Linked DNA regions of Homo sapiens. The protein of the gene in region 2 interacts with the protein of the main gene of each other region in a biochemical or structural test. Each region holds a gene or a part of one and is shown on either strand. Other genes may lie near its edges.

Region 1 (3,500 bases), on a different chromosome or scaffold from region 2:
CTCTTGAGAGTCCTGGAAGTCCAGCTGGGGTTGAGGGGCAGCTTGAATTTCAGTATGCTTGTATTCCCACATTTTCATTGAGTTCTCAAAGTCCTGGAGATGAATACAGTGGCATATCCTAATGATTGCTGTAGCTACTAGTGCACATGACAGATCTGTCTGTGAGCCTGACGTTTGTGGGCAATGGGTATGTGGGTACAGTGGGTAGAGGGGAAGGAGGGCCCCCTGTCCATTCCCCCTGTCATACCCATCTATATACCTATACAAGTATCCATCATTTTATTCAATCTCTTCTGGACTATGCCCTTTAGTTTTTGTTGTTCTGAGTATGCTGGATTTTGGGACACCAGGCTTGGATCATACACATGTCTGGTTTCTAGAAGCTCCCATATGAAGGCATCATGACTGACAAGACAGTGGAGCACCTTTCATGCTCCCTTCTTTGCCAAATGTAGGCAATATGTGGTGATGCAGTTTAGAGCCAAACATATCTAATTTAATTTTGAATCGTGTTTCTGTCATTTACTAGTTGTGTGACCATTAGCAAATTATTTAACCTCTCTGGTCCTCATTTTCCTCATCTGTAAAATGGGAATAAGTGTATCCACCTCATAAGATTGTGGAGAGAACCTACATGAGAGAAATGTAAAATGCCTAGCACAGAATAGGCAGTTTATAAACTGGACTTCTCTTCCTTTCTCTATTGCTGTTTCCATGGACTTTTCACAGGTTAGAGTGCAAGATAACCTCCAAGCATTGAATATGTGATCAATAATAGCTCCTTTATAAGCTTTAGAAGCTTTAGCTGAAGTGGATGACATGTATTAATGCAGCATTTTAAGGAACCTTAGAGACACCTAAAGACCATGTTCAATGCAGAATCTGTTGCTGAAGGAGAAGATTTTTCCATAATCATCTGACGCTTTTAGCTCTCTTTGCAGTGGAAAGAGGAGGATAACCTTGTCGAAAACCAGGGGAGGAAGCTCCTTGTCTCACTCTCTTGGACAGTGTTTGCAAATGTCAGTATATATCAGAGTGTCTTGAGGAGCCTGTTTGCAAATTTGGGTTCCTGGGAACTATGCAACCCTATGTGGTTCAGTGGGTCTGGTGTGGGGGCCCAAGAATGCATTTATAACCAGCATCTCAAGTGACTCTGATGCCAGGGGCACACAGACCTCCTTTTGAGGAATTCTGCTTGAGTGGAAATATTCAGTACTCAAGTGACTATGGATGAGGCAGTATAGGAGCCCAAGACAAGATTTTCCCCCTTACCCGATCTCTTGTCAGCATCTGGGCAGCGTTCTTGTATCTAATTTTGATAAGGCCTGGTCTCTGAATCCAGGCCTCCCCATCCACCTGCACTGGGATACCTTCTTCACCATCAATGGTTATCATCACCTCATGGCACTGCCAGAGAAAATGAGGAAGAATGGGAGAGAAAAATGGGGCAACTGCTGTAACTCTATCTGATAATCTCATAGTTATGGCCTTGAATGTGTATCTGAAGCAGGACTGGAAAGGATGTGAATCAGATCATCCCAGGAAGAAATGCCTGTTTCCTATGGGCTTTTTGCTCCATTGGCTTCTGCCACCTCTGCCTCCAACCTCAGTCAGCACTTTACTGCCCACCAGATAACCTGCTCACTCCACCCTGGCATTCTTCTACCCAGTTAATTCCTGGGACTATCCCACATCCTGGGTAGCAGTCAAAAACCTCAGCCCCTTCCCAGTGCCCACCCAGCCCCTGCCTACCTGGGCAATGCGATGATGATGCAGGTTGATGATACGGGACATTGCCATCTGCACAGAACCAAAGATTGCCACCACCTCCAGTTTCCCATCATCGATTGCAGGAGCCTCATATTCCTGAGGAGGAAGAACTGTGTCACATCTCCCACCCTTGAGAAATCACACCCTGTCTATAACAAGAAGGCATGTTTAAAGGCTCCTGGTGAGAATTTTTCTAGCTCATGAAGAGTGGAAACACTTCATTATTAAAAGGGAAAAAGATGAGGTCAGAAAGCCAATCTGGGAAAAGGGTACTGCACTCTTAGCCAGTTCCCTCCTTTTCCAATCCAGCATCATAAATACCTGAGGCCAGTCTTATTGGCCTTATGACCTTCTTGGGTAAACTCAGAGTAAAGGGGTCATGGTCAGCATCCCAGGAGATTTTACTGACAGAATTCCTTGGAGAAAAGAGCATGGCCTTGGCCGGGCGCAGTGGCTCACACCTGTAATCCCAGCACTTTGGGAGGCCAAGGTGGGTGGATCACCTGAGGCCAAAAGTTCAAGGTCAACAAGCCTGGTCAACATGGCGAAACCCTGTCTCTACTAAAAATACAAAAATTAGCCGGGCATGGTGGCTGGCGCCTGTAATCCCAGCTACTCGGGAGGCTGAGGCAGGAGAATCACTTGAACCTGGGAGGCGGAGGTTGCAGTGAGCTGAGATCTTGCCACTCCAGCCTGGATGACAGAGCAAGACTCCGTTTCAAAAAAAAAAAAAAAAAAAAAGCATGGTCTAGATAGCCTTTAAAGGATCTGTCAGACCCGAGGAATGGAAAATCCAAAGCCCAGGCAACACCTACGAGTTGACCTTATCCTGAGGTCTTTGGTTGAATTTTCTGCTTTCGGATGGTAATTGCCTGAAAAACTGATCATACAGCTGCTGCTAATAAAGGTTCTCGGACCACCTCCTCTTCTCCCATTGTCTATTTTTCACTTCAGTTAGCACAATGCTTCCTTCAGAGAGACCTTAGTGGGATCATGCCTTTCTTCCTCCCCATTCCTTGTTCCATACTAACCGTGGTTGCTGTGTTGCTTCCCCAGAAGTTGATACCTCCAGCATAGCTGGTAATGTTGAGCACTACAATGCCTTGCAGGTTTGGCAAGGAGATGGTTTCTCCATCACACTGAAAGAAAAGAGTAGCTCTCATTAGCTGGATCTTTAGATAGCAACATGAAGGAACATTTACAGAGATGGGGAAAGGGCTCTGTCTTCTCTTCCATTACATGGAAATCTATCTTCATGCCTTCCTCCCATGAGCTGTGAGGATCACAGAGTTAAAGCTCAGGAAGAATCAGCATGTACGGTATTCCCAAGGCCATGAGATTTCCTTTCTCCATACCCAGGAAAGACTACCCGCTTTTCCACTAACCTCCAAATGCACTCGTTCTTCCAGTTTCCTGTAAGAGCGCTGCAAAAGTTCTTTGGTTCCCAGAAGGCCATACCACATCTTGTTCTTAAGGCGGCTACTACATGGAGGTAAGCATTAAGAAAGCAGAGGGTGAATGATATATAGATAAATGGTGGAAAAAGACAGGAAGGAAAACCATCTTACTTCTCAAATGCCTTCTTACAGAGAGGAGTCATGCTAAATGGCAACTGGACAGCGGTTAATGTAACTGATATCCAATGCAAACACTTGAAGAAATGGGTTCCTGGGCCCCTTTGAAGCCTCAGTATCCTATCAATAAATAAATTTTCCATTTCTGCTTGCTAC
Region 2 (3,500 bases):
AGACCACACCACTGCACTCCAGCCTGGGCGACAGAGCGAGACTCCGTCTCGAAAAAAAAAAAAAGAGAGAGAGAAAGCTAGCACTTGGGCCGGGCACGGTGGCTCACACCTGTAATCCCGGCACTTTGGGAGGCCGAGAAGGGAGGATCACTTGAGCCCAGGAGTTTGAAACGAGCCTGGCCAACATGGTGAAACCCTGTCTTTACTAAAAATACAAAAATTAGCCACATGTGGTCACCTGTAGTCCCAGCTACTCAGGGGGCTGAGGTGCAAGAATTGCTTGAACCTTGTGGGTGGAGGTTGCAGTGAGCTGGTATCACACCACTGCACCCCAGACTGGGCGACAGAGTGAGACTGTCTCAAAAAAAAAGAAGTGACCAATTGCCCAAAAGTAGAAACACTGCATGCTACTTCTCAAGGTGTCAATAAAGGCGCCACAGAAATCTTAGAAAGCTCCAAGGTATCCAACTCCCTCATTGTTCAAACAGACCCCCAAAGCCTAGAGAGAAAGCAGCTGCTCAAAGTCACACAGTAATCTAATCTTTATCAGCCCTGCCCCATTTTTTTGAGACAGGGTTTTGCTCCATTGCCCAGCCTAGAGTGCAGTCGTGCAATTATAGCTCACTGTAGCCACTTCCTGGGCTCAAGAGATCCTTCTGCCTCAGCCTCCCAAGTAGCTGTGACTACAATGTTTCCCAGGCTGGTTTCGAACTCCTGGCCTCAAGTGATCCTCCCATCTCAGCCTCCCAAAGTGTTTCGATTATAAGTGTGAGCAACCATGCCCAGCCTTTATGTGTTCAGTGATTTCACCATGCCTGGCTAATTTTTAATTTTTTTTTTTTTTTTGTAGACATGCAGGTCTCGCTATGTTGCCCAAGCTGGTCTCAAACTTCTGGCCTTAAGTGATCCTCTCACTTTGGCCTCCCAAAGTGCTGAGATTACAGGTGTGAGTTACTGCGCCCAGCTTCTTCACTCATTCTTGACTTGGTTCCTCCTCTTTCTTGTTGGATCAGACATGGACTAAAGAAAATGTCTTTTTATTTTTTGAGTGTGTTTTTTTTATTTTTATTTTTTTGATACAGAGTTACACTCTTGTTGCCCAGCCTGGAGTGCAATGGCAGTCGGGGCTCACTGAAACCTCCACCTCCTGGGTTCAAGTGATTCTCCTGCCTCAGCCTCCCAAGCAGCTGGCACTATAGGCACACACTACCATGCCTGGCTACGTTTGTATTTTTAGTAGAGACGGGGTTTCACCACATTGCCCAGGCTGGTCTCGAACTCCTGACCTCAGGTGATCCACCCACTTCGGCCTCCCGAAGTGCTGAGATTACAGGTGTGGGCCACCATGCCCGGTTGAAAATGTCTTTTTATTGTATCTGGCATTTGTAATGGTATTCAGAGGAATGACTGGGCCAGAAATCTGGCAAACCAGGTTGTCAGAACTGGGCCCCATCTGTACCCAAACACTCGCCCATTCATTTTCAGGGCCCCCAGTGCCAGACTCTGCCACCCACATCAACAGCCATAGCCACACCGACGGCAGCCTCGGCAGGCCGGCCACTCACCCCTGGACGCGGACGGTGTGTGAGTGCTCGGTGCCACAGCCCGGTGGGCCGTGCGGGGGGTCAATGGAGACTGAAAGTCCACGCTTGCCATGAGATGAGGCTGGGATGGACACCAGGGTGACGGTGTGGGGCAGGTGGGAGCCAGGGGAGTCAGGCAGGATCTGCTCGATGACGGGGGTCACCACAGTCTGGTAGTAGCAGTGCCCGCTGCAAGAGCCGCCGGGGTGGGAAGAAAAGAGTGTCAAGGGCGTCATCAATTTCAGCATCTCTGCAGCCCCCAGCCCCAGGCTCTTCCCCCAATCCCTTCCTTTTTTTTTTTTTTTTTTGAGATGGAGTCTCACTCTGTTGATTACAACACTGCACCCCAGCCTGGGTGACAAAGCAAGACTCTGTCTCAAAAGAAAAGGAAAGCTAGCAATTGTCCAAAAGTGCAGTGGTGTGATCTTGGCTCACTGTAACCTCCGCCTCCTGGGTTCAAGCGATTCTCCTGCCTCAGCCTCCTGAGTAGCTGGGATTACGGGCACGCACCACCATGCCTGGCTAATTTCTTATTTTTAGTAGAGACGGTTTCACCATGTTGGCCAGGCTGGCCTCAAACTCCAGACCTCAGGTGATCTGCCTGCCTTGGCCTCCCAAAGTGCTGGGATTATAGGGGTGAGCCACTGCACCTGGCCAGCTTTCTTTTCTTTCACTCTTCCTATGGAACTGGGAGCAGGAACTGTGCGTGCCCAGCCAGCCCTCGTCCCTCTGAGTCATTCGGGTCTGTCTACTCGCTGTGATCCTGTAAGGCGGCCAGGACAAGGCCTGAGGATAAATCCAGTTCAGGAGGAAGTCATTAAAAGCCCATCTGGGATCAAGCCACGTTGTCCTCTAATCCAGCTTGATCAGTGTTGTATAAGAAAGAATCTGTCTGGGTTTTGTCCTGATTCCTGGGAGGGAGACTCTAAGTCCTTGGAATGGGGTATCTTTGTTATTCATGAGCCCCTCAGACTATTCCTGAGTTGATACTAATGAGATGACTCAGCCCCGCAAAGATACATCATGTGATTTGAAGAGGGTTGCAGCTTTCATCCAGCCTGACCTCCAAGAACGGGGGCTAGAGACTAAGCTTGATCATACGGCCAATGACTCAATCAGTCATGACGATGTAATGAAATCCCAATAAAAACTCTGGCTGCTGAAGCTCAGTGAAGCTTCCTGGTTGGTGATCACATTGATGTGCTAGGGGAGGGAGGGGAGATGCTTCTTCATTTGGTCGGACCTGAGCTGTGTCCTTCATAATAAAACTGGGATAAAAATGGAGGATTTCCTGAGTTCTGTGAGTCTGTTAGCAAACGATCAAACTTGGCAGGGTCTTGGGAGTCCCTGAATTTGTAGCCAGTCGGTCAGAAGTGTGAGTGGGTTGGGGACCCCTGAACTTGTGGCTGGTGTCTAAAGAGGGAGCAGTTATGCTGGGGATGGTGTCCTTAACTTGTGGCATCCACCCCACCTCTGGTGGTTTGTGCCAGCACCATGCTGCAGTCATGGCCAGTAAGAAAGCTGACGTCTGAGGTTTTCTGTTTTGAGACAGAGTCTTGCTCTGTTGCCTAGGCTGGAGGGCAGTGGTGCAATCTTGGCTCACTGCAACTTCCACCTCCCAGGTTCAAGAGAGTCTCCTGCCTCAGCCTCCTGAGTAGCTGGGATTACAGGCACCCGCCACCACACCTGGTTAATTTTTGTATTTTTAATAGAGATGGGGTTCCACCATGTTGGCCAGGCTGGTCTTGAACTCCTAGCCTCAAGGGATCCACCCACCTCGGAATCCCAAAGTGCTGGGTTTACAGGCGTGAGCCAGCATGCCTGGCCGTCTGAGGCTTTTTCACACTGACTTCTGTGTGTTATTTCTCACTTGTTTCCATGCCGGGATGGGAAAGGAGATATGAACATTTGCCCCAA

Evidence for each region. The genes of interacting proteins can lie anywhere in the genome.
Region 1: the proteins of LIMK1 (region 2) and DGKK interact in a test that uses a peptide from one of them, tested with the Homo sapiens proteins (one large-scale study listed by IntAct).

The regions. Positions count from the first base shown.
Region 1 is NC_000023.11:50,376,826-50,380,325, forward strand, and holds part of DGKK (diacylglycerol kinase kappa), read right to left. Parts: intron 3,253-3,500; coding exon 3,156-3,252; intron 2,910-3,155; coding exon 2,802-2,909; intron 1,867-2,801; coding exon 1,753-1,866; intron 1,408-1,752; coding exon 1,273-1,407; intron 94-1,272; coding exon 1-93. UniProt on the Homo sapiens protein: Diacylglycerol kinase that converts diacylglycerol/DAG into phosphatidic acid/phosphatidate/PA and regulates the respective levels of these two bioactive lipids.
Region 2 is NC_000007.14:74,097,304-74,100,803, reverse strand, and holds part of LIMK1 (LIM domain kinase 1), read right to left. Parts: intron 1,773-3,500; coding exon 1,566-1,772; intron 1-1,565. UniProt on the Homo sapiens protein: Serine/threonine-protein kinase that plays an essential role in the regulation of actin filament dynamics. Acts downstream of several Rho family GTPase signal transduction pathways.